Regions from separate parts of the Homo sapiens genome. Here region 1 is linked to region 2. Evidence: fine-mapped expression QTL. A gene starts in region 2. The other region holds a variant in brackets. All regions are shown on one strand. Distances are between the middles of the regions. Region 1 overlaps ZNF143 (zinc finger protein 143). Region 2 holds the start of IPO7 (importin 7).

Region 1 (4,390 bases), 91 kb before region 2:
GCCAGTTACAATGAACCTGTGACTAACTCTTATTGATAAAGAAAAAAGTGCGGCCTTTTGTGGTGGCTCACGCCTGTAATCCCAACACTTTGGGAGGCCAAGCCAGGCGGATCACAAGGTCAAGAGATTGAGACCATCCTAGCCAACATGGTGAAATCCCATCTCTACTAAAAATACAAAAAAAATAGCTGGGCATGGTGGCGCGCACCTGTAGTCCCAGCTACTTGGGAGGCTGAAGCAGGAGAATCGCTTGAACCCAGGATGTGGAGGTTGCAGTGAGCCGAGATTGCACCACTGCACTCCAGCCTGGTGACAGAGCAAGACTCTGCTGAAAAGAAAAGAAAGAAAAGGAAGGAAGGGAAGGAAGGGAAGGAAGGGAAGGAAGGGAAGGAAGGGAAGGGAGGGAAAGGAGGGAAAGGAGGGAAGGGAGAGGAGGAAGGAAGGAAGGAAGGAAGGAAGGAAGGAAGGAAGGAAGGAAGGAAGGAAGGAAGGGGTGCAGACTTTACTTTTTTCCAACTGTAATTAAAGAAATTTATTTATAAATTTAAGTATTTTAAATTTTTTAAAGATTCCTCCCTTTGTTTGGGAGGCTGAGGAGGGCAGATCACAAGGTCAGGAGACCGAGACCATCCTGGCTAACACGGTGAAACCCCGCCTCTACTAAAAAAAATACAAAAAATTAGCCGGGCATGGTGGTGGGTGCCTGTAGTCCCAGCTACTCCGAAGGCTGAGGCAGGAGAATGGTGTGAACCCAGGAGGCGGAGCTTGCAGTGAGCCGAGATCGCACCACTGCACTCCAGACTGGGAGAGAGAGCGAGAGTCTGTCTCAAAAAAAAAAAAAAAAAAAAAAAAAAAAAAAGATTCCTCCCTTTGGCTTCACAACAAAACAGCCTTTCTAAAACGTGTTATGTCATTCTATAATAAAATGCTCTCTAGCTGGGTGCAGTGGCTCATGCCTGTAATCCCAGCACTTTGGGAGGCTGAAGTGGGCGGATCACCTGAGGTCAGGAGTTTGAGACCAGCCTGACCAACATGGTGAAACCCCATCTTTACTAAAACACAAAAATTAGCCGGGTGTAGTGGCGGGCACCTGTAATCTCAGCTACTTGGGAGGCTGAGGCAGGAGAATCGCTTGAAACCAGGAGGCGGAGGTTGCAGTGAGCCAAGATCGTGTCCCTGCACTCCAGCCTGGCAACAGAGCGAGACTGTCTCAAAATAATAAATTAATTAATTAATTAAAATAAAATATTCTCTAAAGTAGTAACAATAGGTAACATTTATTGAGCATTTAGTATGAGACAAGCACGGTTCTAAGTGCTTTACATGTTTGTGCATTCTGTCCTCACAACAACCCTACGTATGATATGGACACCTACTATAATCCTCATTTTACAGATGATGAAACTAAAGCACAGAAAAGTAATCTGCTTAATGTCACACAGCAAAAAAAAAGTAGCTTTGAATATACATAGTCTGGTTGCAGAGCTGTACTCATCATTCCTAGACATTCCACCTCAAACCCCTGAACTTCCCTTAAACAAATGTAATAAGCATTAACATTTTGCTGTATTTGCTTCAAATATTTTTGACATTGTATACTTAGTTTCAATTAAACATAGTAGGCAAAGGACCTTGCTTTAAAAATTTTATACACACACACACACACACACACACACACACACACACACACACACATATATATTTTTTTGAGACAGGGTCTCACTCTGTTGCCCAGGCTGGAGTGCAGTGGCACGATCTCAACTACACTGCAACCTCTACCTCCTGGGTTCAAGCGATTCTCCTGCCTCAGCCTCCCTAGTAGCCAGGATTGAAGGCATGCACTACCACAACTGGCTAATTTTTGTATTTTTTTGTATTTTTAGTAGAGACAGGGTTTTGCATGGCCAGGCTGGTCTCAAACCCCTGACCTCAGGTGATCCGCCTGCATCGGCCTCCCAAAGTGCTAGG[A/C]TTACAGGCATGAGCCAACATGCCCAGGCAAAAAATTGCATTTAAGAGGAAGAAATAGGTTAGGCAAAGTGGTTCATGTCTGTGACCCCACTGCTTTGGGAGGTCGGAGCAGGAGGACTGCTTGAGGCCAGGAGTTCAGGACCAGCCTGAGCAACATAGCAAGACCCTATATTTAACAAAAAAAATTAATCAGAAAATAAAAATTTAAAAATCAGCTGGCTGTGGTGACACACACGTGTAGTCCTAGCTGCTCAGGAGGCTGAGGCAGGAAAGCCCCTTGAGCCCAGGAATTCAGGGCTATAGTGAGCTATGATTGTACCACTGCACTCTAGCCTAACAAAGATCTTATCTCTAAAATACAGAAATGAATAAAATATGAAGTTAACCATTTCAATGTTACATTGTGATTTTATTTCTGAATCATTTAAAAAAGGAGCCAAGGCTGCTTTTAAAATATGAAATTAAGGCTGGGTGCAGTAGCTAACGCCTATAATCCCAGCACTTTGGGAGGCTGGCTTGAGGCCAGGAGTTTGAGATTAGCCTGGCAACAGAGTAAGACCCTGTCTCTACAAAAAATGAAAAAACTAGCTGGGAGAGGCAGCATGCACCTGTAGTCCCAGCTATTCAGGAGGCTGAGGCAGGAGGATCCCTGAGCCCAGGAGTTTGAGGCTGCAGTGAGCTGTGCTTGTGCCACCACAATCCAGCCTGGCAACAGAGTGAGACCCTGTCTCTTAGAACAAAAGCCAACCAAAAAAACAAAATGTGGCCTCTACTTTAAGTCTTCCAGGGACCAGTCATTTGGTTTGCTGTTCCAGCTTGTCACTGGACAGCTCAAATTGTAGGAAAATTTTTCCTTAAATCATGCTTAAATCTGCCACCTTGTACTTTAATGAATAAATACAATTCTTTCCCATGACAACAATTCAGAAGCTAAACACAGGTCTTCTTTCCCCCACCACTCCCACTTCTCCCTTATTTTATTCATACTTTCAAAGTTATTTTACCTTTGGAGGTGTGGTGAATAAATGCTGTGGTACCATCTTCTAACTGTACTGCTTGACCATCCTCTAGACGCAAACTGTCCCCTGCTCAAGAACAATGCTTACATTTAGATCTCATGTTTTCTAGCACATTCCAATTAACTCACTTAGCAACAAGAGTCAATAAACCATTAACACATTATAACAATCTATACTTGCTTCATGAGTCTTTGAACATTTAAGTAAGTTCAGTAAAGCTTCCCTGCGTCAGTGTTTAAAGGTAAAAAGACATTAGAATATTGGTTTTAGAAATATACACCAGTATTAAAGAGAGTTGAAAGAAGGGGAAAAATGAAGAAAATGAGAGACATGTAAGATTCAGCTCAAAAAACAGAAACATTCACTCAGGACTGTTACTCATTTATCTCCACAGTGCAGTCCAGTAACTTCTTTTCCATTATCTTTACGAGAAAGTCTTGGTTAAGATCCACTCTGTGGCATCTATAATCTCCCTTTACAGAAGGAGGACTTGAGAACAAGACCAAGTTTAGGTAGTAAGAGGGAGCTGCAGGTAGCAAATACTAAAAGCTGAGAATTAAAATGGTTTCCCGTGCTGTTATCTTAAATACTTACTACTTTTAGGTATGGGTACATGTTGAACATAGGCCGCAGAACCATCTTCCAACTGAATGACCTGGCCATCTATGAGTTTTGCATCTATAACAAAAGATTCAAGACAATAAATTGGCACAAACAAAAATTTTAAACTTTATACAATTTCAAAATGATATCAACTATAAAAACATACACAACTTAAGCTCGTGTTCATCTTGATTCTTCCCTCAATGTTCTGAGGCAATTCAATAACACATCCAGTGATCCTACAGAAAGCAGAAAATCCTCCCTCAGCCATCCTTCCTCCCCTGCAATTTTCAATTAGATGAGGTCAAGAGGAAGAGTGGCTCATCACAGCAGGCTACATGAGTTGGACTGCTTTATACCTTTCAGAGTCACTTAGAATCAGTGACCATGACCAGTGGGGAGTTGAAGCTGGGAAGACAGACAGATTATGTCAGTGTATGTGAGATCATCTGTCATTCTCATCCCTGAGGGCTATAAGACCCCTGTTTATGTATGCATGTGCTCAGTAGGTTTCCATAGAAACAAAGAGTTTTTGAGGACTTGGCTGTTTCCTGGAGCAAAGCAAACACTAATTCAGAGACAATGTCAGATAAGCAAAACCAAATGTCTTTTTTTTTTTTTTTTGAGACAGAGTTTTGCTCTAGTTGCCCAGGCCGGAGTGCAATGGCGTGATCTCGGCTCACTGCAACCTCTGCCTCCCGGGTTCAAGCGACTCTCCTGCCTCAGCCTCCTGAGTAGCTGGGATTACAGGCATGCGCCACCATGCCCAGCTAATTTTGTATTTTTATTACAGAAAACGG
Region 2 (4,390 bases):
GTCATGGTAGAAATGACCATGACTAAACTTTTAGCTTTTCTAGGCTTGTAACTGCATTACTATTTAATAAGCAAAATAATTTTCAACTTAACCCATGTCTATCACTAAGCAAATCAAAACAAAAAGTGATCCATTGCTCCTTCCATAGTTTGGTAATGGTTCAAAATGGTAATACGGTTCAACTCACTATTTTATATCCAAAAAAATCTAAGCTCCTCCCAAGGTGACTCTGAGTCTAAAAATTTGAACATGTAATCATCACTTTGTGTGGTATAATAATGATCTCATTTACATATAAAATAGATTTAACATTCTGAAATAATTTTACATTTAATTTGTGTAAACTCTGTAGGTAGTCTTCTTGAACTGTAAGTTCCGTGAGGGCAGGGATCTCTAGTGCAGCCCTTTACACTGAAAGTCCAGTTAGTAATATTTCTGCTGTTTCTGGTAAGTCAATATAAACAATGTTTTTAAATTATTTACTTACCAGCTAAAAGACGCATAAAATAGTTGAATTTCTATTTTAAAGTGTGATTTCTTTTTCAGTTAAAAAATGTACACTAAAGTTCAGTAAAGCTGGCAGATTCAGCAGCATGCTGAAGGACAGTTACTAACTGGCAGAAAAGTTACAGCAGCCCTTTTAAGAAGGATTTAAAATACTGATCATTAATACGTAAAAATGCAAAAGTTTAGAAACAAAGAATGACACTGGAGATAGTACAATAAATATTCATGCAATTAAGCTGTTTTCCAAGGAGCGGTCCCCACAAAATATGGGGGAAAAAAAAAACCTTCAGAGAATGCAATATCTGAACTGATAAGGAGCTCAGCATGTTCCAAGGCACTCAGACTTAACATTATCTCACCTGTCTGTCACAGCAACTCTGTGGCGTAATTTTATGAATGGGAAAAACTCAGGATCAAGAGGTTAAGCGACTGGCCCAAGGTCACTCAAGGAATCAATGGTGCAGCTATACCTAGAAGGGTGCACTTCACCTGATCCTTCCCACTACATAAGCCAGCTCCCCGACTGAAGCATTAGGACAGCGGAAAAGCAGGGATCAGACTCTGTGAGTGTCCCGCACTACTCCTATCCTGCCAAGGAGGCGCGGGCTTGCCTTTGAAAGCCTTCCCTAGCAACTCAGCCAGAGAGGAGGAAGTTGTGCCCGAGGCAGGCCACTGATCAGCCCAGCAAAGTGACAAGGATGACAGGCGCAGCCCCCAAAGGACCAGCCGGCATTCCCAGGAGCCCTTCCAAACCCTGCGACGGCGAGACTGGTCTCAGAAACATCTGAAAAACCTCCCAGTAAGTTTCGCCCCCTCCTGGACGTGAGGAACCAGCTGGGAATGAGCCAGAGGTCGGCCAGCCACCCGAGCCAGCCATGTGTCCAACCCGTCACGCCCGCCCCGCCTCAGCCGGCTCCTCATGCCTAGACCGCAGCCAGAGGCCCAGCTCAGGATCCGAAGCAAAGGCAGCCTTGGCTGCAGCCACCACCACCACACCACACCGAGGCGCCCCGGCGTGGAAGTCGCCGTCAGATGTCCGCCCCACCCTCCTGCTGGGACCCTCAACGACGTCGTCCGCGCCTCCGGCCAGGCCCCGGGGGCTCGGCCTGCCACTTCTGCCCACCCGCCTGCCCGCCGCCACCGCTAGCCGGGCGTCCTTACTTCATTGAGCTGGCGCTCCGCGGCCTCACGCAGGGCTGGGTCCATAGTGCCCCGCAGGGCCTCGATAATGGTGTTGGGGTCCATCGCAGCGCGGACTCGGTCAAACCCGGGGCTCGGGTGCTACTGGGCCAGGAATAGCGCCACTCACTGCGCACATGGACCCGCCGCGCTCCGCAGCGGCAACCGGCGCGAAAGGAAAGAGAAGCGCCAAGGCCCCGGATAGAACCTCTTCGCCTCGGCGTGGAGGCGGGAGATGCTCCGGCGACTTCCTGTGGGCGCGCCTGCGGAGCACTTTGGGAGATGTAGTCCACAAACACAGTCCGCAGCCCACGTGGCTGCCTGAGCTGTCGTTCCTACAGACAAGTCTTTCTGTTCAAAAACGAAAAATGTTCAAGTTCCACAAAAAGAAAAGCAAAACAATCAGTTACAAAAGGTTTCACATACTATATCCACAATGTTCATAAAGGGAGTCAGATACAGTGTGTGGTGCAATCGATTGCTAATGGCTGCGTGATTGAAGGAAACTTTCTGAAAAGCAATTTGAGATGTGTTTCTGATAGCCACTAAAATATTTAAACTGCCGGGCGCGGTGGTTCACGCCTGTAATCCCAGCACTTTGGGAGGCCAAGGCGGGCGGATCACGAGATCAGGAGATCGAGAGCATCCTGGCTAACACGGCGAAACCCCGTTTCTACTAAAAATACAAAAAATTAGCCGGGCGTGGTGGCACGCGCCTGTAGTCTCAGCTACTAGGGAGGCTGAGGCAGGAGAATCGCTTGAACCCGGGAAGCGGAGGTTGCAGTGAGCCGAGATCGTGCCATTGCACTCCAGCTTGGGCAACAAGAGCGAAACTCCGTCTCAAAAAAACAAAACGAAACGAAATGTTTAAACTCTGACCCAGTAATTCCACTTATGAGACTTTATCCTAAGGCAATAACACGGAAGATTAAATGAACTTTATGTGTGAAAGGTTTTTATCACATTACGTATTAGTAATTACCAAATACTGAAATCATGGCTTTTTATTGAGTATCCAAATTTTAGTTGGGACTTCATATAAATCACCTCTTAATGCAGAGTAAAAGCATAATCCCTATTAAAATACACCTTCCTGCCAGGCGCGGTGGCTCACACCTGTAATCCCAGCACTTTGGGAGGCCAAGGTGGGCGGATCACAAGGTCAGGAGATTGAGACCATCCTAGCTAACACGGTGAAGCCCCGTCTCTACTAAAAATACAAAAAATTAGCCGGGTGTGGTGGTGGGCGCCTGTAGTCCCAGCTACACTGAGGCAGGAGAATGGCGTGAATCCAGGAGGTGGAGCTTGCAGTGAGCCGAGATCATGCCACTGCACTCCAGCCTGGGTGACAGAGCGAGACTCTATCTCAAAAATAAATAAATAAATAAATAAAAATAAAAGACACCTTCCTAGCCAGGCGTAATCCTCCTGTTGAGGCAGGAGGATTGCTTGAGACCAGAAGTTCAAGGTGACAGCCTGTTAAGATCGTGCCTATGAGTAGCCACTACGCTACAGCCTGGGCTACATAGCGAGACCCCATCTCTAAAAAAAGAGGGAGGTGGGGGAGAAAGAAAGAAAGAAAAAGTCCTCTTTTATAACAGCCAAGAAAAAGTTTGTTTTAGAAAGGTTAAATAACTTACCCAAGGTCACGTAGTAAGAGGTTCAACTAAGATTTCAAACCTAAGATCTTTGTTTTCAAACTTTCCATTGTTTCCACTAAATCACTCTGCCTCTGAAGAGAAATGTTGAACAATATAGGACTGGTTAAGCAAATAGCAAGAATCCAGTAAATTAAATATTTCACAGCCATTAAAAAATATAACAAAAAAGTATTTATGGAAGGATATAGCTTTGTAACATGGACAAAGACTGAAAAGCAAGGTTAGCAAATGAAAATAATTTATTTTCTATTAACAGGATGGTGAGATTTGGAGTAATTTCCTTTCATATCTGTTATTATTGTAACAAAGTTATATAAACAGATATACTTAAAATTAATTATAAGCCTTCAAATACAATGTGTTAAATGATCACTTATTGTTTTTAATTTACAAAAAAAAGAGAAGGAAAGGCTCACGAAAGCCTTTCCCTGAAGCGGTGGGTTTTGCAATGTTACTACCTTGTATATGCCAGCCACTGTGCCTGGAAGTACTGGAAGTAAGACAGAATTATTCCTAATTTAGGCCGGGCATGGTGGCTCACAACCGTAACCACAGCAATTTGAGAGGCTGAGGTGGGCGGGATCACCTGAGGTCAAGAGTTCGAGACCAGCCTGGCCAACATGGCAAAACCCCATCTCTACTAAAAATACAAAAATTGCCTGGCCCGGTGGCTCACGCCTGTAATCCCAGCACTTTGGGAGGCCAAGGCGGGCGGATTACGAGGTCAGGAGATCGAGATCATCCTGGCTAACACAGTGAAACCCTCTCTCTACTAAAAATACAAAAAAGACCGGGCGCGGTGGCTCACGCCTGTAATCCCAGCACTTTGGGAGGCCGAGGCGGGCGGATCACAAGGTCAGGAGATCGAAACCATCCTGACTAACATGGTGAAACCTTGTCTCTACTGAAAATACAAAAAATTAGCCGAGCGCGGTAGCGGGCGCCTGTAGTCCCAGCTGCTCGGGAGGCTGAGGCAGGAGAATGGCGCGAACCCGAGAGGCGGAGCTTGCAGTGAGCCAAGATCGCGCCACTGCACTCCAGCC

Evidence for each region. PIP is the estimated chance that this variant, and not a neighbour inherited with it, causes the effect.
Region 1: its variant is the best candidate, but not a certain one, in a credible set for the expression of IPO7 in whole blood (INTERVAL, PIP 0.62).

The regions. Positions count from the first base shown.
Region 1 is chr11:9,473,216-9,477,605 of GRCh38, reverse strand. ZNF143 (zinc finger protein 143) reads right to left here. Exons shown (of 16, transcript NM_003442.6): 4 at 3,582-3,665; 5 at 2,973-3,056. Among named protein-coding and RNA genes, the nearest start is that of ZNF143, 14 kb to the right of the region's middle. The variant A/C (reference allele first, on the strand shown) is at 1,969.
Region 2 is chr11:9,382,126-9,386,515 of GRCh38, reverse strand. It overlaps IPO7 (importin 7), which reads right to left and starts at 1,864. Exons shown (of 25, transcript NM_006391.3): 1 at 1,669-1,864. The coding sequence starts at 1,752. RefSeq lists an enhancer at 1,347-1,862.